3 separate regions of the Homo sapiens genome follow, and all the other regions are linked to region 1. The links come from fine-mapping of genetic effects on gene expression. A gene starts in region 1. Each other region holds a variant in brackets. All regions are shown on one strand. Distances are between the middles of the regions. Region 1 holds the start of SLC25A26 (solute carrier family 25 member 26). Region 2 overlaps SLC25A26 (solute carrier family 25 member 26). Region 3 overlaps SLC25A26 (solute carrier family 25 member 26).

Evidence for each region. PIP is the estimated chance that this variant, and not a neighbour inherited with it, causes the effect.
Region 2: its variant is fine-mapped to the expression of SLC25A26 in blood mononuclear cells (TOPMed, PIP 0.99).
Region 3: its variant is fine-mapped to the expression of SLC25A26 in whole blood (TOPMed, PIP above 0.99).

The regions. Positions count from the first base shown.
Region 1 is chr3:66,217,037-66,225,143 of GRCh38, reverse strand. SLC25A26 (solute carrier family 25 member 26) reads right to left here and starts at 4,143. Exons shown (of 10, transcript NM_001379210.1): 1 at 4,017-4,143. The coding sequence starts at 4,049. RefSeq lists enhancers at 3,520-4,019, 4,141-4,200, 4,371-4,530.
Region 2 is chr3:66,296,971-66,305,077 of GRCh38, reverse strand. The region is part of intron 5 of SLC25A26 (solute carrier family 25 member 26); the gene reads right to left. Among named protein-coding and RNA genes, the nearest start is that of SLC25A26, 80 kb to the right of the region's middle. The variant C/G (reference allele first, on the strand shown) is at 3,972.
Region 3 is chr3:66,376,338-66,384,444 of GRCh38, reverse strand. It overlaps SLC25A26 (solute carrier family 25 member 26), which reads right to left. Exons shown (of 10, transcript NM_001379210.1): 10 at 5,522-6,755. The coding sequence ends at 6,638. It overlaps LRIG1 (leucine rich repeats and immunoglobulin like domains 1), which reads left to right. Exons shown (of 19, transcript NM_015541.3): 14 at 173-454; 15 at 1,044-1,463; 16 at 2,047-2,172; 17 at 2,814-2,966; 18 at 3,584-3,868; 19 at 3,956-5,648. The coding sequence ends at 4,182. Among named protein-coding and RNA genes, the nearest start is that of LRIG1, 120 kb to the left of the region's middle. RefSeq lists enhancers at 749-1,248, 1,249-1,750. The variant GT/T (reference allele first, on the strand shown) is at 4,534.

The sequences.
Region 1 (8,107 bases):
AGGTCACCACCTGGTGGAGCTGTGAGAAGAGGGCCACTGTCCTCCAGACCCCAGAATGGTAGATCCACTGACAGCTTGAACCCTGTGCCTGGAAAAGCTACAGACACTGAATGCCAGCCCATGAAAACAGCCAGGAGGGGAGCTGTATCCCACAAAGCCACCATGGGAACCCACCTCTTACAGCAGCGTGACCTGGATGTAAGACATGGAGTCAAAGGAGATGATTTCAGAGCTTTAAGATGTGACTACCCTGTTGGATTTCAGACTTGCATGGGGCCTACAGCCCCTTCATTTTGGCCAATCTCTCCCATTTGCAATGGGTGTATTTACCCAATACCTGTAACCCCATTGTATCTAGGAAGTAATTAACTTGCTTTTCATTTTACAGGCTCATAGGCAGAAGGGACTTGCTTTGTCTCAGATAAGACTTTGGACTGTGGACTTTTGAATTAATGCTAAAATGAGTTAAGACTTTGGGGACTGTTGAGAAGGCATGATTGGTTTTGAAATGTGAGGATAGGAGATTTGGGAGAGGCCAGGGGTGGAATGATATGGTTTGGCTCTGTGTCCCCACCCAAATCTCATCTTGAATTGTAACTCTCATAATTCCAATGTGTTGTGGGAGGGACCTGGTAGAAGGTAACTGAATCATGGGGGCAGGTCTTTCCCTTGCTCTTCTGGTAATAGTGAGTAAGTCTCACAGGATCTGATGGTTTTATAAAGGGGAGTTCCCCTGCAGCACATGCTCTCTTGTCTGCCACTATGTAAGACATGACTTGCTCTTCCTTTGCCTTCCACACAACTGTGAGGCCTCCCCAGCCAAATGGAACTGTAAGTCAATTAAGACTCTTTCCTTTATAAATTACCCAGTCTCAGGTATCTTTGTTAGCAGCATGAGAACAGACTAACACGATGTAATCCTACCACCAAAAATACTTAGTGCTATTTTGGAGTATTTCAATCTGGCTTTTTTTCCCCATGAATGGAATAGGTTTTAACATAGCTTTAATTAGGTACAAGCAAATATACATACATGCAATGTTTTTCTCTTAATTTTATCTCATAAGCATTTTCCATGTAATTATAGTACATTCTCTTCACAAGCACTATTTTTTATGGCTGCAGACTAGTCCAAGAAATGGGTTTCCCATTGTTTGTCTAATTCTTCCCCTCTGTCCCATGTTTTAGCAGCTTCTTACTGTCTTCACTGAGTTAAATGTTATTTATATAAATATCTTTAGGTTGCTAATACATAGTTCCAGTTGCTTTCCTAAAAGTATGCACTGATCAATGTACTCTTTGAGGATTTTGTTTCTGGATACCCCACTCTGTGCTCCAAATGATAACTAACATCCCAGAGGCTCTCCACTTATTCAATCCTCTTCATGAAGCTTTAGGAAGGGAGCATTTCAATGTCTGCTACTTGCCAGGCTCTGCTCTGTGTGTTTAATGTTACCTCATTTAATTCTTCAAATCCAAGTTTCAAGACTTCAGCAATCATCTAGGCTTTTCATTCAAAGTAGTACTGAGTGCTTACCTAGTGCCAGGTACTGGTAAAAGAGTAGTAAGCAAAACCAAACTCCCTCAGGAGTGTTCACTGTGTCTCAAACGCACTCCAAGACATTAAAAAGTAGCCACTCCATTTCCGTACTACTCTGATAATAAAACATTTCAATGGCTTCCATTACACTACAAATGAAATCCAAATTATTTTCCCTAGCCCATAAAGCCCCACCTCAGCTGGCTTTGCCTACCCCTCCCATACCAACCCCTGCCATGCTATCCTTACCCATTAGGCCTCACCACTTGAAAACTCTAAGCTCTTTCCACTTGAGCCATTCCCCATGACTGAACCTCCCACTCTGATCATCAAAAATTCAAGCCCCTTCCTATCTTTTAGGTCTTAGCTGAAATGTTACCACTTCGTGGCTTTCCTTGGTCACTCCATCTAAGAGGTTCACCAATATTTGCCTACTCTGTCGCATCTTCAGTTCATTTCTTTCATAGCACTTATTCATTGCAACTGTTTTATCTGCTGGCCTTTCTTCCCTACTTGAAATGGGGTTATCTGCCACTGTATCTACAAAGCCTACCACAATACCCAGTGGGCAGAATAGATGGAAGAAAAATTGTGTGCTGAATGCATAAATAAAATGTTTTTCCTTTACCTGGAATGAAATCTAGTTTCTTGAAACTTCCACCTATTGATTCTAATTTTACCCTCTATAAATACATTGGGAAAAAAGTATACTTTACTGCATGTGTATCATACTTTAATTAAGTATATACTAAATCCATTCTTTTGTTAACTGCAGCACTCACCTGTGTTTTAGCAATTGCAACCTTTGCTGACTTCGGAGAGTATCAAGAAGCAGATAAGGGCACGACTCCCAGGTGACATCACCTGGGTTGGAATATGAGCTCCAATACTTACACAGACGAAATGGATCTCACTTGTGTGATTTTGAACTAGTTATCTAATCTCTTGGTATCCCACTTCCCTCATTTGGAAAATTAGGATAAGAGTTCAATTATTGTGAGAATTAAATGGGATAATGTATGTAAAGAGCTTACCCCAGTTCCTGGCACAGGAATGTTAGCTGACAAACTACTGCTGCTGTGTCACCAGCTAGACAGGAAAGCTCCTTAAAAGCGGTAACATTGGCCAGGCGCCGTGGCTCACGCCTGTAGTCCCAGCACTTTGGGAGGCCGAGGCGGGCGGGATCACGAGGTCAGGAGATCGAGACCATCCTGGCTAACACGGTGAAACCCCGTCTCCACTAAAAACCCAAAAAATTAGCTGGGCGTAGTGGCGGGCACCTGCAGTCCCAGCTACTCGGGAGGCTGAGGCAGGAGAATGGCGTGAACCCGAGAGGTGGAGCCTGCAGTGAGCCGAGATGGCGCCACCACACTCCAGCCTGGGCGAAGAGTGAGACTCCTTCTCAAAAAAAAAAAAAAAAATCAGTAACATTATTTCTTTATATTTCTAAGACCTACCTTATACAAGTTTCAACAAATCTAGATTTAAAGCTATCATCCTACAAGTCTGGCTAAGACATCCCTACTTCCATATATTCCCCTAACACCCTGAACCTAGCCCACCTGTTATTTATCCCAACAGTCATTTTACTATTTTGTCTCTAACACCTGACCCTTAGGAGCAGGTCTATCTTGTTCACCATGTTATCCTCAACACCTGCAACACCAAAATTCGATAATTAAGTGACTAAATCACTGTGGGCCTCCATTTTCCCTATGAAAATCATTTTAAAAATTATTTGTCTGTCTCTGCCCATTCCACACAATGAAAACGTAGGCAGCCAAACTCTGTTTTGTTAACTGCTGTATCTAGTATCCTCTACCAGACGCTCCAAAATATTTGGTAAAGGACTTTTTTTTCTGTTAATTCATGTTGATTCTCGTAGTTTTCTGCTACGGAATTAAATACTAAGCCTGTTTATTGACTCCGCAGCGTTCCCGATGAGCTATGTGTGCTCACCAATATTTCTCCAAAGCCTAGGCTTGGAGCAGAAATAGCAGATTATGTATTGAATGAACAGAAGGACATGTCATTTTCTAAGACTGAAAAGAGATGCAGCAAAATGAGAAACGTAGTATTGAATAGAAGGGCTGGGAGCGATGTGAGTAAGGTTTTTGTTGTTGTGTTACATACATTTCTTTAATTCCCAAGATCTCTAGAGTAGTTACACTATTTAATGAAAGAGTAGTTAACAGTGTATAATAGAAGCTCTTTTTTAAGTAAATGAGGGTGCAAAAGACAATGACTCACCTTCCTTCCCCCACCTGGCTCTTATGACCTGGCAGTACAGACATAGCCTTAACACCTGGCCCGCCGGTGGCCTGGGAGCCTCGTGCTCCCTCTCAGACCTGGCTGCCAGTAACCCGAGGACAGTCCAGCCCGCAAAACCGGAAGAAAACCAGTGCAGAGAACGCCCGCGGGCTCCAATGCCGGACGCCGGCACTCTGAGCAACCCACCCCACCGCCCCGCACTCACCACCAGCGCTGCCACGAACCCCGGCCGGTCCATGGTCGCTCAGACCTCGTCAAGGCTACAATCCAAGCCGGAGCAGAAGCGGATCACGTCCTCGCGCGCTGGGCGCCGCCATGTTTGAGGCGGGTCTGTCTTGAACTTCCGGGACCACGTGACGTAGAACCACAACAACTGCACGTGCAACGCGAGACACCTGGGCCTAGGGGAGGGCCAGAGAGGAGGGGCGGGGCCTCGGGGAGTGTGGTGGAGCTAAGTCTCGGCAAATCCCTTACCTCGGTTTCCTGCAGCAGCGTTGTGTGCAGCTAGACGGAGGAACTTTCGCGAGCAAAAGATCCGTGGCCGAGATCCAGGAGAGAGCAGCGGTAGAATGAGGCCGGCGTGATTCTGAACTGTAAACCCAGAAGAGGCGTGGCTGTGGCGGAGGGAGGAGTCGTGAGGGGTAGTACTAACCTCGGGAGGCGCGATTCGGGATCCTAATCGGATATTTCATTTTGGTTTATCTCTTAGTTTTGTCAAAAAATTTTATCTGAGTTTATATTAAATTAACTCATTATCAGAAGATTATTAAATAAAGATATAGAAAAATACATCAGAAGTTTCCTGACCGGAGTTAAAAATTAGCATCCTCCATTTCTCTTTACAGAGTTACTGCATTTAAAATTATTTGTTTGTTCAGTTATTTACCTGCTCATGTTGTTCGCTGTTGTACTCATGTGTACACCTCAAAGCACACGTTATTAAGTACTTAATAACATTTCTTGGAGTGGACCTGTCTTTATTAAACAAACAAATACCTTGTAAACTTCTGTATATATTAAGGGCCAACTACATCTCAGACGTGGTGCTAAGTGATTGACAGACATTTTTTCATTTAATCCTTTCACCAACCCTATGATGTCAGCAACACTAGTGTCCTCATTTTACAGAGGCTCCTGATGCTCCAACAAGTAACCGACTCAATGTGGCTACAGAGAACACAGCAGAGCAAGCACTGAAAATATACTTAATGCCCTCATCATCTTTCCTCAAAACCGTTATAATAACCTGAGCAGGCTCCTTGCCTGGCCTTTCTTCAATCCCTATTCTATAACACTGCTAGAATTATTCTTATAATTATTCTTATTCTCTTCTAGGTAAAATGATCTAGAAATGATACGCAGAATAGCTTTAGGTGTTAGATGGAATTCAAATTCTATCACCTGCTGGGTTTGGGGATAAGTTTTCCAAGATTAAGTTTTCTCCCCTGTAAAGTGGCGATAATGATAGTCACTTTGTCATGCGGTACTATTATATTAATAGATTAAATGAGATAATGCACTCAAGTTCTTAGCCTAGTTCCTGGCTCATAGAAAGTACTCTCTAAAGGTGATGGTAATGTTATTTCCCTGCTTACAACTCCCCTCTGCTGCCAATGGAGACAGTCCAGCTCCCTAGCATGGTATACACCTCTCAGCTGGTGTCTCCTGTCACTCTTCCCACTAGCCGGACTACACACAGACAGACTATACACTTCCAAGCCTCCTAATTTTGCCCATGTTGTTCTCTCTACCCAGAATACCTTTCCCTAAGCTGCCTGTAGGCCCTCTCAAAACATGCTAGTTCACTTTGTCAATGCCAGCAGAAGAATCTCTGTTGCTGCTATTAATGTCTTTCAAAGTCTCATGTGCTTTGGTCAGGCCTACCCAGGATAATCTCCATTTTTATTAACTCAAAGTCAACTGATTAGAGACCTTAATTATATCTGAAAAATTCCTTTTGCCATACGTGACAACATAATCATGGTGGTAATGTTCTGTCATACTCACAGGTCCTGCTCACAATCAGTGGGGTGATTATGCAAAACACATTAGGGGCCAGGAATCTTGAGGGCCACCTTAGAATCCTGCCTACTTCACATTCCTATAAACCCTCACCGGCAGCCTCCTCAAAGGCCATCAAGTTTCTATTAATAAGCTTTCACTGACATTTCCCTCACAGTCTTCCCACCTTTCACCTACTGCCTGGTGCCAATGGCACTCCCACAGTTTAGGAATTACAGTAGCGCCCACCTCCAAGTACCAAAATCTGTATTATTTGTCTATTTCTGCGTAACAAATTACCCCCAAAATTTAACAGACTAAAGCAACGATAAACTTCTATTACCTCACACAGTTTTCATACGTCAAGAATCAAGGAGTCATTTAGCTGGGTGTTTAAGACTCAGAAATTTTCATGACACTACAGTCAAGATGGTGGCCAGGGCCATATCATAAAACTTGATCATGACCGCAGGATCCAATTCCAAGATGGCTCACTCCCATAACTGGCAGATTAGTGCTAGCTATTGGCAGGTAGCCTTAATCCCTCATGGCATACATCTCTCCATAGTACTGCTTGAGTGTCTTCATGATATAGTAGCTGGTTGTTCCTAGAGTAAGTGGTCTGAAAGAGAACAAGACAGAAACTACAAAGTCTCTCATGACCTGTTCTCATAAATTACTCAGTTGTCATTCCAGCAATAGTCTATTGTTTACACAGGTAATCGACATTTATTATGGGGCTGGACTACCCAAAAGCCTAAATACCGGAAGATGAGGATCACTGGGTGCCATCTTGGAAACTGGTTACCACATCAGGGAAATGCCGGTGAACACCACAATGAGATATGAATACACTAGAACTCACTAGAGTGGCTAAAATTAAAAAGCCAAGTGTTGACAAGGATGAGAAGCAACTGGAAATCTCATACATTGCTGTTTCGAATTTTATATGGTACAACCATTATAAAATCCAATGCCACACTTAGGTATTTACCCGAGAGAACTAAACATTTATACAAATACTTTTACATTATATTTCAAAGCAGCTTTATCCATAATAGTCAAAAACTGAAAACAACCTGAATGTCTATCAACTGGTGGTATAAACATATTATGATACATCTTTATAATGGAACATCACTCAACAATAAACGGACATGAATTACTGATATATGAAACAACATGGATTAATCTGAAAGCATTATGCTATGTGAAAAAAAAAAGACCACATGTATTGTGATTCCACTTACGTGAAATTCTGGAAAAGACAAAATTATAGTGACAGAAAGTATATAAATGCTTTCCAGGCGGTGGAGGTAGAGGCAAAGTATTGACTATGAAGTGGGCACAAAACAATAGTTTGCAATGATGAAGATATTCTCTTGTTATTATTGTGGTAGTAGTCGCATGGGTGTGTACATTTACTAAAACGCATTGACTTGCACAATTAGAATGGTTGTACTTAGTATATATAAACTATAAGGCTGGGCGCCGTGGCTCATACCTGTAATCTCAGCACTTTGGGAGGCCAAGGTGGACGGATCACCTGAGGTCAGAAGTTTGAGACCAGCCTGGCCAACACAGTGAAGCCCTGTCTCTACTAAAAATAGAAAAAATTAGCTGAGTGTGGTGATGCGCGCCTGGAGTCCCAACTACTCAGAAGGCTGAGGCAGGAGAATCGCTTGAACCCGAGCGGTGGAGGTTGCGGTGAGCTGAGATTGTGCCACAGCACTCCAGCCTGGGTGACAAGAGCAAGACTCCATCTCAAAAAAAAAAAAAGTATATGTAAATTATAGCTCAATAAAGTTGATTAAAATATTACTATCTCGCAGGATGATGAGGAATAAATAATATATGCACAGAAAGTTTTAGTCCAGTGCTTGTCATATAGAAATATTCGGTTTATTCCGTATTTTCCTATTTAAGTTAGAGATTCTGAATATTATGAATGAGAGACTGATAAGTTATCAAGGTGCATAAGTACTTTGTGATACATACTACTATAGCCTCCTAAGTGAAAATAAATCTTATTTCTAGCTACTAATGTTCCTGGAAGTTTTTGATGTAATTCCTTCCCTAAGAGAAAATTTAACCTAGACTTATACCTTTAATTTTGATTTAATACATCCTTTGAAGTAAAATTAAGAAAAAAATTCCTTTCCTCTTCAATGCAATGGTTGTCTTTAACTTTGCAAGAAAAAATTGTGTTGATGTCATTTTCTGGTAACTTGGAGGGAAATGTAATTTATCAGGTATCTTTCAGAATCAAGAAGAAATACATAGTCTCTCCTTTTA
Region 2 (8,107 bases), 80 kb before region 1:
CTTTTCGCAGCTCTAAGTGTAAAAATTCAGTTCCTAGAAAACTGTCAGTTGCTAATAAAGAATCTCAGAACTCTAACAAGTGATACTACCGTGTCATAAAAAATAAATCACAAGATACACTTTTTGGTGACAAAATCTTTTGAGTTTCTTAACATTATGGGGTAAAATGGTTGTGAGTTTATCAGGTCTTTTTGGCCCTATAAATCATAGTACATGTTATAAGTCATCCTCTTAATACTAATGTATCAATTTTTATCACAATTCATTTGGTAAACAGGATAATTCTGCAAAGTATTGAAAATTGCAAAGTTCTGAGCCAGCAACAAATTAGATTTCCACCCACATGGTGGTTAATCAGTCCCATGTACAGAGAGAAAGGAAACTGGATATAATGATTCTAAAAGCATTTTAAAGAATGTATTAGTGAACAACGAATCCTCAATGCCTGACACCTCGATGGTTTCCTGAAAGCACCAGTGAACCATGTAGCGTATATCCCAGTTAGCATGTTCAGCAATCAGGGGTTGTTACAGAGCTTACCAGTATAACAGCATGTATACAAGCCACACACAACAACTCACAGAAGCTCACAAGCCTCCCCACACCTTTGACTCTAATCCTCCTCCTGCAAAAATAGAAGAAAAAATATGACAACAGACATGTGAACACAAAACTGAAACTGAACAGAAAAGGGAAGATATTAGCTTAGATATGAGACATAAGAAAAAGTATGCTCCAGAATCTTTTTAAATCAAGAGGCATTGTGGGAGGCCCCCAAGATTCCCACTCCCTGATGTACCCGCCCTGTATAATCCTCCCCCATCCAGTGTGGATGGGACCGTGAACAGGACAAAGACAAGTCCTGTGACGAAGTTACATTTAATCAGAAATATGAATGGATTCTGCAGATTTAATTAAGTTCCCCCATCAGTTGGTTCTGAGTTTATCAAGAGGGAAATTATCGTGGATGGGCTTGACTTCAAAGGTGAGTTCTTAGAAAAACCAGCCCCTTCCTAACAAGATCTGAAGTGTGAGAGATTCTCCTGCTGGCTCTGAAGAAATAAAATTTCATGTTGTAAAAGGGCCTATGGAGGGGGCCACATGGCAAGGACCTCAGAGCAGCCTCTGGAAGTAAAGTGTGGTCACCATCCAATCGCTAACAAGAAACAGGATCCTCAGTCATACTGCCACAAGGAAATGCCATCTGCCAACCGCCCTGTGCATTTGGAAGAGGACCCTAGCCTCAGATGAGATCACAGTCCCTGCAACACCTTGACTGTCACTGTGTGAAACAGTGAATGGAGAACTCAGCCACGCGGTCCTCAGACTGCTGCTGTAGAGACCCATGAGATCATCAATATATGTCACCTTAAACCACTAAAGTTGTGGTAATTCATTACACAGCAACAGAAAGCTAACAATCATCTACTGCACCTCTAGACATTCCCCTAAGTGATCCTGATGTTACATGACACTTGAAGTTACTCATTTCAATGGAGTGAAAAATGTGGGACATTCTAGTTAAGTGATCTTGACTGGCAGTTAAAGTTTCAGAAGTCCTACAATATTTTCTGACTTACAGCCTAATCTTACCTGGAAGGCATCTTGCTGATTATCTGATCCAGCCACCTCACTTTTAGCCAAGACTAAGAGAGGGAGCTAGCCTCCCCAGGTTCACAGGGCTAACGAGCAGCAGAGGACGAGCCACAGCCCAGTTCCTCCAACACAGTTAGCTGTTCCCAGAAGTCTTTCCTTAAAGGTGGCTGCGCCTTAAAGATACTTGCAGTTGTGCTTGACTAGAGAGGGGGAGAGAAGTATATCTCCTCTCTGATACTGTAGTAAAATGGCCATAAAATAAATACTGAATGCTTTAGAAAAGTGGAGTACAAAGCCAATATTTCAAAGGATTCAAAGACTAAAAGCAGTATTAAAGATGTCAACAGTGACTAGACCATGATAACTACTATATTATAATGTCTTCTGCATCTTTCAACCTCCCAGGGGACATTTAAATTGTCACTACTCACGGGAGGTGCTCCTGGTATCTAGTGGGTAGAGGCCAGGGATGCTGCTACACAGCCTGGAATGCAAAGGGGGGTCCCCATGGACACAATCCACAGCCCCTTAAACTCTGCTCTAAGGCATCAGTTATCTTTCTTTATCCCTGCTGACTCCCTAGCACTGAGACACTGAACACATGGCGTGCACCACCTGTGCTCCCTTACACACTCAGAAGGCAAAGCTCTCCCATATCTCAATTTTCTTTGGCTTGGGCTTTAATCACTGTTCTTTGGTTTGAACTTAAATATGGGCTAACCTTTTCACCAAGTTGTATCTAGCTCTAATACACAAGCACACCTGCCCAGCTCAATGTTGCTTCTGACAGACAAAGCCAAAACACTATTATGCATACTTGATTTTAACTAATGTATGTTTTACACATGAATCAAAATCTGGTGACCTATCAGCAAAGGCCTAGTGGAGTATGAGTGTGCAGAACACATGGTGGAGAACCGCTGCTTACTCTAAACTGCTGGCAGCAAATAAGTATTACATGACCCAAAAAAATGATATCGATGACTAGAATGAGAAAAGTGTCAAAACAACAGGAAGTGGCAGGGACTCTGATGACATGGAGAGCAGTTTCTGTCAAAACAAGCAGCCGCTACTCTGTTCTAGACAATTACTGCCATGCAGAAATGTAGGCCCACTATGACCAGATACCCAGATTGTCCAAGAAAACTTGGATAACTGGAGTTGTATATGAAACCACTCAATTTTAACATGTTAGCTTGTAGTTTGCAAAAACCTTGAGTCCAACATTTTGGGCCACGTCTTTGAAATTTATGGTCTAGAGATTGTAAGAGCAAATGAAGAGGTGCCAAGTGGGCAAATTCAGAGGGAGGAAGGTTCAGGATATACTTCTGCACAACAGATGGAGTATTAGAGACACTGGGGATAAAGCTAAGTGATAGGCCTTGGATGAGGCCAACAAGTTTCAGAGGAGCTGCTAGTGATATTATCATCATTATCATCACAACAATAATCATAAATTATAACATTTATATAGGACTGTATTTCAGGCACTGTCCTAAGCACTTCATATGCAGGAACACATGTAATTTTCCCAACAACCTTATGAGGTTGGTATTATTGTTACTCTCATCTTACAGAGGAACAAAATAAGTCAGTTTAAATAACTTGCCTAAGGCCACATGGCTAAGTACTGGAGCTGGGATTTGAATCCAGATAGGCTACCTTCAGACTCCATGTTTCTAATTACCCCCGTCACAATTCTAATGCTTGTATCTGTAGGCTTTTAATTCTGTATCTCTCTGTAACTACATATAAAATGTGTTTCATCCACCTAAGTTCTGAATGGTAACATGTAGATAGGAAAAGACTAAAACAATGCTTAAGGTACTCCGTCTAAACACGTATAGAAATGGAAGCATTTTTCCCAAATGAAAATGTTAGCCCCTGCTCTCTATAAATTATGTTGGCCTAGTAGGATTCAGTCCCTCTTGTTAAAGTTTTACTTTCTAATGACATTCTTGGCTTCTGCTTACATAAAAATACTAACAAACAGATGCAGAAGTCACACTCTCCGGCATGGAAGTCAAAAGGCATAGACGAATTGGTTGTGCCCTCCAACCAGAGTGGGAACTGTGGCAAACAATTCTAACGCCCATCAAAGATGCAAGGCATGAACTTGTCCTACACACTGTGGCAGCATTATTACTAAATTCCTTAAAAAGTCTGTATAAAAATCTGTAACAACTTGGCAAGCAAAATTACACTTCAAAGCAGCTAGTATGTAAATTAACTTCACATTTCACTTCATTTTAAAACAAGAGAAATTGCTATAATAAATTCAGGGAAACTGGCAATTTTGAGTTGAATACTAAAAAGAAAAGTAAATTTTCACCTTTACATGAGATCTACTATTTTTTATTCTTCATGAACCCTAT[C/G]TTCCATTTCAGAATCCAATTATTTGAGGACACAATGAGTTCTATCATCATTTTATTCTGGCAGGTCAAACACTGGTCCAATATTATAAAAATGCATAGACTTTATTGAGACATAAAAAGCAACAAAGTATTTTCAATGCCGTAATTCCCAAATCTGCTTAGAAATCCAAACAAGTAATTTTTAAGTAGAATTTTAAATTGTGTTGGAAAAAACAAAAAACTCTGCATATACAGAAGCATAAATACAGATTAACAAGTGAATGCAACAAGATACTAAAATATAATACACGTGTTAGCAATCATTTTGAAGAAAGCACTAAAAATATCAGTACTAGTCCACCTCCCTTTAGTATATGCTACAGTCTAAAATATTTATATTTCCTTCTTTCTAGAAAATTATACTGCTCAAACTTTTTTTCATGAAGCAAAAAGGAAAAAGTCTCTCTCAAAATGCTATGCAAATATGCAGAAACCATGACATTATCCCTAGGAGGATGTATATAAATCCTTATTCTGTTATGGATCTTAAAAACAAAAAACGAGCATCAGCGACACCACCACCAAAGGACTCTTTAAGAAAGTACTTTTAAGATTTTAATTGTTCAAAATTGTTTAAGACAAATAGGAAAAGGTAATTTGAAATATATGCAAAGAACAAGAAATTTTACTTGTGGCTAATTCAATTATTTCCTTTGGAAAAGAATAAAGTTCAAATCATATTGCCAATGTCACTATAACTAAAATCTGACCATTACAAAAGGTCTCCCAAACTGCAGTCAATGGCCTGCTCACTTCAAGTAATATTGGTAATGGCTAAATTCCAGTATAACACCAAAAAAAAAAAAAAAAACAAAACAAAAAAACCCTAGCCTAGAAGTCCACTGGAGTTCACTGTAACGGGATTTAAGCTATAATTAAATTTGATTAGCTTGGTTCAAACCTCAAGTTCAAAAGACTTATCAGCATGAATGGATGAAAAACCCTTTTACACGGGCATTTTGAAAATATGAAAAGGGCTGACACAGCAAGCTTCAAAGACTTTAAAAGCAATTGACCCTTCCCAGAGCAAAGGAGAAACGCTAACAGCTGAAACTCAGATGCTGCGTGCAAAGAAAATAAAGTTCCAGATGGCTCAAAAGCCTGGTAGTTTATTAAATATTAAATACTATTATTTTTAACTGGATTTTTGCCCAGAGATAGCCAAATATGTCACCCATAAAATGTGAAAAAGCAGTATGATACCATCCCCTGAAAAACTGAAGCAAATAAATATTTTCTTTTTCAAAAACTACCCGCATGTGGAAGTTTCTCAAGGAGTTATACAAACAACCATGACAGTCAAACAATCAAGACGTTTAATAAAAAACAAAAACATCTATAACCTAAAAATCCAAATCAGTTTATTTCGAGACATTTAACTGTTACTCTATAAACACACACCTCATGCACACATACCCCCTTGGATCACATTATATTTTCATGCATGAAGAAAGGAGAAAAGTGAAAGAAGCAATAATAAATATGGACTACGGAACTGTGTTAGTGACTGGGGGTTAACATAGTTTTTACAAGTAGTTAAATATTAGTATGAAAGGATTATATATACAAAAGTTTGTTTGCCAAGCACATCGGCTCACACTTATAATCCCAGCATTTTCGGAGGCTGAGGTGAGCAGATCACTTGAGGCCAGGACTTCAAGACCAGCCTGGCCAACACAGCAAAACCCAGTCTCTACTAACACAAAAATTAGCCAGGCATGGTGGCACACATCTGTAGTCCCAGCTACTCGGGAGGCTGAGACATGAGAATCGCTTGGAACCCAGGAGGCGGAGGTTGCAGTGAGTCGAGACTGTGCCACTGCACTCCAGCCTGGGTGACAGAGGGAAACTTTGCCTCAAAAAAAAAGTTTGTTGTATGTATTCTTTTAAATACATACATGGAAATGGGTGCATATACACGCACATCAAATGAACTGTATACATACATATATAAACACACACACAGTAACAAATGTATACATAGGTACGTATTCATGTGTACACACACATACACACACACAAACCAAGGGTCCCTTTTCAACAAAATAAAGTTAGTTAACTAAGTTTACACACTGAGTTTTTAGATGGCACCTTCAAGTGAGTTTTTATGTTAAAATTTTTCCCTTGTTAGCATACTGTTTCTATGTAACTTGGGATCTGGGGGAGGGAAAAGACTGTTTTTCATGAAATAGAAACAACCTATGCCAAATGAAGCAGGTGTGAGATATCTCAAAGATGAAAGCAATTCTCCAAATAGCAACGTCATCCTGTAATGCTTTCTTGACATGTACAATTTTGCTATTCCTCTGACATTTATTACAAAGTACTGTGTTTGTGATCTTTCCTAACACAGATCAGTAGTGTGACTGGTGCTCATTTCTAGCAGCTTTTAGCACTGAGGAAAAAGTCAATTCAACACTGATGTCACTTAAAATGGGTAAGAAATCCAGCTACAGCAGAGGCTGCTGTGCCCCTTAAATGCTCTTTTCTTAAGACACTTTCTTCACAAGCAAATTAATTCTTAATGTAATTCTTTTATTCTGAAAACTGTTTATTACAAATCATCAGTTTTGAAATAATTCAAAGTGATCTCCCACCAAAAAAAGAAAACCCCACAAAGAAATAAATCATATTTACTTTTCTGTCCATTAAAAATATGCTGAAAGTGACACAGATGTACCTCTCAGAAATTTCTCATTATATTAAAACTTATCCACAATTTATGACAAGGAGTTTTACTAGAGAAAATATTAATTTCACCAGCTTAGTAATAATATCCAACATTTCATTTTCCTCCTGATATACCTATCAAATGGTTTTGGTATTTAAGCTCTTCTTTTTTTCAAAACAGAAGAAAATCTGTTAACTGAACTTTGTATCACCTAGTCCAGTGGTTCTCACACTTCAGAATGCATCAGAATCATGCAGAGGGTGTATAACACAAATTCTGGGCCTCACCCCAAGTTTCTGATTCAGAAGATCTCAAGTGGGGACTTAGATTCTGCATTTCTAGCAAGTTCCTAGGGAATGCAGCTGCTATTCGTGGAGGGACTGTACTTTGGGAACCAATGATCTACTCAGTATTTTCCTTCTTTTCATAATTTGCAAATTTGATAACGAGGAAATGATATGCTATATCCTTTAAAGACAGACATCTTTTGAGAACTTAGAATTAAAGAGAAATTGACAAAAAGGAAATCTAATCTAAGGCACAGCACAGCCCTCAAAGATGATCTAGTCTAGGATTCAGAAAACTTTTTCTGTAAAGAGTCAGATAATAAATAGCTTAGGCTTTATGGTCCATACAGTCTCTGTTACAACTACTCAACTCTGCCACTGTTGTGTGAAAGCAGACAGACAATACATAAATGAAAGAAAGTGGCTGCATGCCAATAAAGCTTTATTACAAAAACAGGCTGTGATCTGGATTAGGCCCACAGGTCATAGTTTACCAACTATTTTTTAAAAAAGGAAATCAATACCCAGAGAGATTAAACAACTTCAAAAGGCACAAGATAGCGAGTGGCAAAACTGCAACTAGACCTTCAGTGTCCTGATGTCTGATGTACTAAGGAAGCTACTGTTATAGTAATATTTTGATAAAGAACAGCCACAAATGGAATGCATTACAAAACCTCATGTAGCTTAATGATCAAAAAGAAAAAATGACTTTACTAAGCAAAAGAGCATCTCAGTTCTAGAATTAATGCCAGACATTCTTTTTTTTTTTTTTTTTTTTGAGATGGAGTTTCACTGTTGTTGACCAGGCTGGAGGGCAATGGCACGATCTTGGCTCACTGCAACCTCCACCTCCCGGATTCAAGCAATTCTCCTGCCTCAGCCTCCCGAATAGCTGGGATTACAGGCACCCACAACCATGCCCAGCTATTTTTTTTGTATTTTTAATAGAGATAGGGGTTTCATCATGTTGGCCTGGCTGGTTTTGAACTTCTGACCTCAGGTGATCCACCCGCCTCAGCCTCCCAAAGTGCTGGGATTACAGGCGTGAGCCACCGCACCTCGCTCAATGCCAAACATTCTTATTCTTATTATTACTTATAAATGGGAGGCTTCCACCATTGGACAACAATCTGGAC
Region 3 (8,107 bases), 160 kb before region 1:
GAGAAGCTGGGGGTTCCTGATTCACAGGTGGCAGGAGTGGTCCTGGGCAGACATTGGGAGAAAAGAAGTGAACTGGCACTGGGCACAGTGACAGGTAGGTGTTTGCCAGAGGACTTCCTGGTTTTGCATCTAGCTGTCCCGTAACCCGACCCTGTATACGTATGTTTTCCAGTGTTGCCATCATTCACCAAAACGCCCCACGACATAACCATCCGGACCACCACCATGGCCCGCCTCGAATGTGCTGCCACAGGTCACCCAAACCCTCAGATTGCCTGGCAGAAGGATGGAGGCACGGATTTCCCCGCTGCCCGTGAGCGACGCATGCATGTCATGCCGGATGACGACGTGTTTTTCATCACTGATGTGAAAATAGATGACGCAGGGGTTTACAGCTGTACTGCTCAGAACTCAGCCGGTTCTATTTCAGCTAATGCCACCCTGACTGTCCTAGGTTTGCCTATTGCTCTACTGTGTGTGTGTGTGTGTGTGTGTGAGCGAGAGAGAGAGACTCTCAAATGCTCTGTGTGGCCAGGGGTGGTATGCGTTGTGGGCCTTTCGACCCTGTTTGAAATTTGGGGCTGCTTTTTGAGTTGAGTTAATTTTTCTTAAACAAGTGTTTCTATCTCTTTAAAAGAAATGATAGCTGGTGAATTAAGAGTCTTCATAGGGTTTAGCTACAGAACATTTTAAGAATTGGACAGGATGGATGTGGGCTTGGTCAAGAGCTACAGAACATTTTAAGAATTGGACAGGATGGATGTGGGCTTGGTCAAGAATAAGGACACAGGCCTGACACAGGACAGTTAGGGAATAGCAGGGGCTTTTGTCAGCAGAGGTTCACTGTCCCTGTGGAAGCCACTCCCAGCATGGAGATGACTCAGTCAATGAGTTGAAGGGTCTTCTCCAAAGCTTGCCACTCTGAGACAGAATCTCAGATGCATCTCATTGATATGTTGGATTGTCCGTTGTCCAGAAGACCGGGCAGAGCCAGAGCAACGGAGGCCCTGAGAATGACTAAGATCTCTGTTGCTCTCTTGTAGAGACCCCATCCTTGGTGGTCCCCTTGGAAGACCGTGTGGTATCTGTGGGAGAAACAGTGGCCCTCCAATGCAAAGCCACGGGGAACCCTCCGCCCCGCATCACCTGGTTCAAGGGGGACCGCCCGCTGAGCCTCACTGAGCGGCACCACTTGACCCCTGACAACCAGCTCCTGGTGGTTCAGAACGTGGTGGCAGAGGATGCGGGCCGATATACCTGTGAGATGTCCAACACCCTGGGCACGGAGCGAGCTCACAGCCAGCTGAGCGTCCTGCCCGCAGCAGGCTGCAGGAAGGATGGGACCACGGTAGGCATCTTCACCATTGCTGTCGTGAGCAGCATCGTCCTGACGTCACTGGTCTGGGTGTGCATCATCTACCAGACCAGGAAGAAGAGTGAAGAGTACAGTGTCACCAACACAGGTCAGGCCCTGCCAGCGGAGCTGACTTTCAAGGAGGGAGGAATGGCAGTGATGCTGGGGAACTGGGCCGGGTTCCAGTGGCTTTTGAAAGAATTGCACTGTGTTCAGAACTCCTGAGGGTTTAGTCCCACTAATTCCATTTTAACTTTGAGGAACTTAACCTTAAACAGGAATACTCTCAAATTTAACCTTAAACAGGAATACTCACAAATACAAGTAACTGACGCACCATGCAGTTTTCCCTCTCCTTGCTAACTCAGAGGCCGCCTATGCACAGGCCCTGCTGCCACGTAGTAGGTTGTTCCTGAAACAGTGCGGTACTTCTGTGAGCCCCGGCTTTCCATCACTGGTCTCCACTTCTTGTGGCGTCTGGCATCTGCTGGCTGCGCTCTTCACGCTGGGTGTAGAGTAAAGCTGAGCAGGCTCTGGGAGGGCCTGTTGCGTACATGGACTCCATGTCATCTCTCTGCACAGCGCTGATGGTCGTCACTGGGAGGATCCCCTTTCTGAGCTTGACAGTGAACGTGTGTCTGCATTTCTTGTCACTGAGACCCTGGTGTTCTATTTGTTCTGTCTCCTTGCAGATGAAACCGTCGTGCCACCAGATGTTCCAAGCTACCTCTCTTCTCAGGGGACCCTTTCTGACCGACAAGAAACCGTGGTCAGGACCGAGGGTGGCCCTCAGGCCAATGGGCACATTGAGAGCAATGGTAAGGCCTCAGTAACTGTGAAGCAGAGCTCTGCTGTGACTGTGTCTCTGGGTGCTGGAGGTGGCCTCCAGGTCTTTACAGGGCAGGTACCTGGCATTAGATGGGGCAAACTTGGTGAAGTAGAAGGCGGTATGACTAAGGGCTGCTATTTTGGACCCAGTCTTCATGAGTTCTGCAAGGTTTTAAAGTCCTGTCCCCTCAGGAAGCCACTGGATTGGGCTTAGCATCTCCCTGGCAGGATAAAGTAGGCTTGCCTGGAGTAGCAGCTGGAAAGGGCATTACGGTGCATGAACCCAGCCAACCCATTCCTTACATGGGGAACGTGCCCAGGTCTGCTCTGTGATCCAGTCTTACACTGGAAAGCTGTCACCAGGATGAGGTACTTCCAACGGTGGGGGCCTCTGAGCACTTGCCTGAGACTGTAGAGGCTCACCCTGAGACAGCTGCTCATTTCACAAGGCCAGCCTGCCTGCTGGGAAGTAGTAGCAGAAAACACGCTGCTTGCCAGACCAGCAGCCCCACCGCTCTGAAGAACTTTTTAAAAAAAATGACTGTTCTAGCGGCCTTGCTCATTCCTTTCATAAGGCTTACTGTGAAATACCAAGCCCAGAGTTTCTAATCGTGTTGGAATCCACTTGCAGGTGTGTGTCCAAGAGATGCAAGCCACTTTCCAGAGCCCGACACTCACAGCGTTGCCTGCAGGCAGCCAAAGCTCTGTGCTGGGTCTGCGTATCACAAAGAGCCGTGGAAAGCGATGGAGAAAGCTGAAGGGACACCTGGGCCACATAAGATGGGTATGAGATGCTTCCCATTGGAAGTAGTTTCTTTCTGAAATGGAAATTTGGGCTGACCTAGTCACTACATCAAAGGGGGAGACACATTCCTAGTCCACAGCTGTCTCCAAATTTGGTATTCAGTATATACAGGGGAAGCTCAGGCCTGGCTCTCTTAATTCCAGGATAGTTTCTCCTAAATAAATCTACGCCATGGTAAGCCTGAGCATGAATTTTCTAGATGTATAAGCAACTTAAATAAGGGGCAAGGCACAAACGAAGTATAGAGTTTCAGTCAGCACTTTTTCACCAGGGCTATTTTGAGGCTTATTTCTAATTGTTGAAAAGACCCAACACTGCATGGTACCTAAGGCTAATGGCTTTTCCCCCGTGAAGCAGTAAGACTACATTGTCTATGAAATTCACTGTAAACACGAAAGACCCCACAGTTCATGAGTGACTTGGTGTTTGCCCAGTCCTTTCTCTGGGGACATAGTTGGGGAAAAGAGGAAGCATGCATACAGTGTTTGCAGTCAGGGTTCTCACCTTGCACAGTGGAGCTGAGCAGCCTGTCCTCTGTGTGGGGACGAAGACTCCCACAGCAGTGACTCTAACCCATCTTTGGCGCTGTCCTTCAGAACACGGTGGCCGGGTCGTATGCAGTGACTGCAACACCGAAGTGGACTGTTACTCCAGGGGACAAGCCTTCCACCCCCAGCCTGTGTCCAGAGACAGCGCACAGCCAAGTGCGCCAAATGGCCCGGAGCCGGGTGGGAGTGACCAAGAGCATTCTCCACATCACCAGTGCAGCAGGACTGCCGCTGGGTCCTGCCCCGAGTGCCAAGGGTCGCTCTACCCCAGTAACCACGATAGAATGCTGACGGCTGTGAAGAAAAAGCCAATGGCATCTCTAGATGGGAAAGGTAACTTTTGACTGTCTTCTAACAGGTGGGTTGGGAGCTGCTTAAACGGTCAAGTGGGGGTCTGACAGGTTCGTTCTTTCCTTGTAGGGGATTCTTCCTGGACTTTAGCAAGGTTGTATCACCCGGACTCCACAGAGCTACAGCCTGCATCTTCATTAACTTCAGGCAGTCCAGAGCGCGCGGAAGCCCAGTACTTGCTTGTTTCCAATGGCCACCTCCCCAAAGCATGTGACGCCAGTCCCGAGTCCACGCCACTGACAGGACAGCTCCCCGGGAAACAGAGGGTGCCACTGCTGTTGGCACCAAAAAGCTAGGTTTTGTCTACCTCAGTTCTTGTCATACCAATCTCTACGGGAAAGAGAGGTAGGAGAGGCTGCGAGGAAGCTTGGGTTCAAGCGTCACTCATCTGTACATAGTTGTAACTCCCATGTGGAGTATCAGTCGCTCACAGGACTTGGATCTGAAGCACAGTAAACGCAAGAGGGGATTTGTGTACAAAAGGCAAAAAAAGTATTTGATATCATTGTACATAAGAGTTTTCAGAGATTTCATATATATCTTTTACAGAGGCTATTTTAATCTTTAGTGCATGGTTAACAGAAAAAAATTATACAATTTTGACAATATTATTTTTCGTATCAGGTTGCTGTTTAATTTTGGAGGGG[GT/T]GGGGAAATAGTTCTGGTGCCTTAACGCATGGCTGGAATTTATAGAGGCTACAACCACATTTGTTCACAGGAGTTTTTGGTGCGGGGTGGGAAGGATGGAAGGCCTTGGATTTATATTGCACTTCATAGACCCCTAGGCTGCTGTGCGGTGGGACTCCACATGCGCCGGAAGGAGCTTCAGGTGAGCACTGCTCATGTGTGGATGCCCCTGCAACAGGCTTCCCTGTCTGTAGAGCCAGGGGTGCAAGTGCCATCCACACTTGCAGTGAATGGCTTTTCCTTTTAGGTTTAAGTCCTGTCTGTCTGTAAGGCGTAGAATCTGTCCGTCTGTAAGGCGTAGAATGAGGGTTGTTAATCCATCACAAGCAAAAGGTCAGAACAGTTAAACACTGCCTTTCCTCCTCCTCTTATTTTATGATAAAAGCAAATGTGGCCTTCTCAGTATCATTCGATTGCTATTTGAGACTTTTAAATTAAGGTAAAGGCTGCTGGTGTTGGTACCTGTGGATTTTTCTATACTGATGTTTTCGTTTTGCCAATATAATGAGTATTACATTGGCCTTGGGGGACAGAAAGGAGGAAGTTCTGACTTTTCAGGGCTACCTTATTTCTACTAAGGACCCAGAGCAGGCCTGTCCATGCCATTCCTTCGCACAGATGAAACTGAGCTGGGACTGGAAAGGACAGCCCTTGACCTGGGTTCTGGGTATAATTTGCACTTTTGAGACTGGTAGCTAACCATCTTATGAGTGCCAATGTGTCATTTAGTAAAACTTAAATAGAAACAAGGTCCTTCAAATGTTCCTTTGGCCAAAAGCTGAAGGGAGTTACTGAGAAAATAGTTAACAATTACTGTCAGGTGTCATCACTGTTCAAAAGGTAAGCACATTTAGAATTTTGTTCTTGACAGTTAACTGACTAATCTTACTTCCACAAAATATGTGAATTTGCTGCTTCTGAGAGGCAATGTGAAAGAGGGAGTATTACTTTTATGTACAAAGTTATTTATTTATAGAAATTTTGGTACAGTGTACATTGAAAACCATGTAAAATATTGAAGTGTCTAACAAATGGCATTGAAGTGTCTTTAATAAAGGTTCATTTATAAATGTCAGTATAGTTGGTGGTCCTTCTTTTACAAACGCAGTCATTCTGCCTTTAATTATCTTCCCCCAAAAAAGAAAAAAAAAATAGGCGAAGCAAAATCACATACTGTTTGTTTGCTCCAGGGCAGACAACACTGCTAGATTCCTGACATTTTGTTTTGAATTTTTCTACACCTGGAGCTTGTTAGTCAAGGTCTAAAATCCCTAAGTGTGGTGACCTTTCCATTTCATCCTGCCTTTTCAAAGCTGGCCCAGGCCCTCCTTTCAGTCTGACATGAGAATGGCGAGAATGGCTCACCCACCGTGCCCTCCTGCACGAAGCCAGCTGGGCCCACCTAGTCACTTGAGTTGCAGCTGCTTTCTCTCACACACCACAGGGGGCGCTGGACACATCTCTGTAAAATAATACAATTGTGCGTTTTTATGGGTGAAATCTGAGGGTAATTAAAACCAGCAGCCTAGTTACCCAGAAAGAGTGCTTGCTATGCACCTGTAGTTCAATCTTTCTTTCTTTTTCAACAAAGCCTACCCTTACACAACAGGAATTAACTAGGGGGAGAAACACCCACATACACAACTCTTCCCCAAGTCTCCTTTTCCCAAACAAACAAACAAGCTATTCTTTTAGAATTATAACCATCTTGCCTTCTGCTGAATCCACCATCAGGTGGCAGGAAATGAAAGATCAGATACAGATCAAATGAAAGCTCTAAAAGGCCTGGCCTCAGCATTACCAAACTTATTTATTAAGAGGTTCTGAGGAAATTGTTCAGAGTACCGCCACAGACCCCGTTTTCTTCTCTTAGCTCTCTGGCATACAGGCCAATGACTTCATACCAGCCAGCCTATACCACGGATGGCACAATCTCCATGCCGGTATCTTAGCACAACTGGTCTTCAGCACTGGGGCCTATAGTTCAGACAGCTGCTCAGCGGAAGAGGGTTTGCACTGCAGGCCCCTCTCTTGACAGAAGTGGAGGTGAGGCTTGTCTCTGCTTCAAGGACTCTTTCTGCCAACTTCCAACAGCAAGCTGTGCGTTCGGTCATAAGCCCCCAGAAAGATGAAACCTCCCAGACTGATGGCTGCCATTCGAGGGAAGACACCTGCAAATAATCTAGGGGAAAAAACAGGATTTTTAATGTTGTGCGTATTTTAAAAAAAGGTTAAATTCCAATACCCACAGCTTGCTCAGCTCAATACACCATGCTCATTAGTGGCTAACTACCAAACAGCTTGTGAACGCTCCCAAATAAGGCAAGTAATAGCTGTGTCCCAACAGTAGTTCTAAAACTTTCATGCCATTTTTCCCTTTGAAACATGAAATTGATTTTTTTTAAAAAGGTGTTAAAGAGCTGAATCCTAGGTAAGGCTGGAAGGCACTTCCAGCCCACACCTCTAAAGTGATCTCCAGGGGTTGCTCAGTGAAGAGATTTTTGGGCAATGCTGCCGCTCCACCCACTGACTCAGTTGCATTTTGTCCTTCGAGACCCCAAAACATGACGTCACGACAACGAGTTGAACCTCCATGGATTCCCTGTGTTCCTTTTCTGTCTAAAGGCATGAAAGGCAAATGGGCTGTGGCTGTGAAGGGGGCAGCATGCCTCCACCTGCACAGTCCCCTTGGTATCACAGAAGGTGCTGCTAACCAGCCAAGGTGCAATGTAGAATAATCAGAGCAATGCAAAGTAAAACTACAATGCCACGAGGATACAAATTGGGGATTCATTCTTTAAAACTGCCCCCCCTCCCCATACCTACTCAGATATTTGTTCAAAAATTTTCATTGTGGCATTGCTGATGGTGATATAAGTTATGGCACAGTATAAACATACAGTGGATGATTATGTAGCTGATAAAGATGAGGAAATCTACAGATGCCAACATAAAAAAATTACAAAACAGGTTTAAAAAACTAAGTCCAAGGACTATGATTCCATATCTAAAAGGCAAGCCAGGGATGTGTCTTAAGCCCTAAACTGAATGCCTGCTGCCTGTGGATTATAGGACACATTCCTGGCCCACGCTTCCATAACCTTTGAACCTTTTCACCAAGAGTACAGGCATGACTCAGAGATATTTCAAGTTTGGTCCCAGGCCAAGTTTGGCCACCATAATAGTGAATATTGCAATAAAGCAAGCCATTCAAATTTCTTCGTTTCCCAGGGCACAGAAAAGTTATGTTTCTACTACAGTCTATTAAGTATGCAGTAGCAATTATGTCTAAAAATTGTACATACCTTAATTTTAAAATGCTTTATTGCTAAAAAATGCTCATGAGCATCTGAGCCTGCAGTAAATTGTAATCTTCTGGCTGATAGAGGGTCTTGCTTTGAATGATGGCTGCTAACTGACCAGGGTAGTGGCTGCTGAAGGTTGGAGTGGCTGTGGAAATTTCTAAAAATAGTAATTGTTGCATTGATGGACTCTTCTTTTCATGAAAGATTTCTCTGTAGCACACAATACATT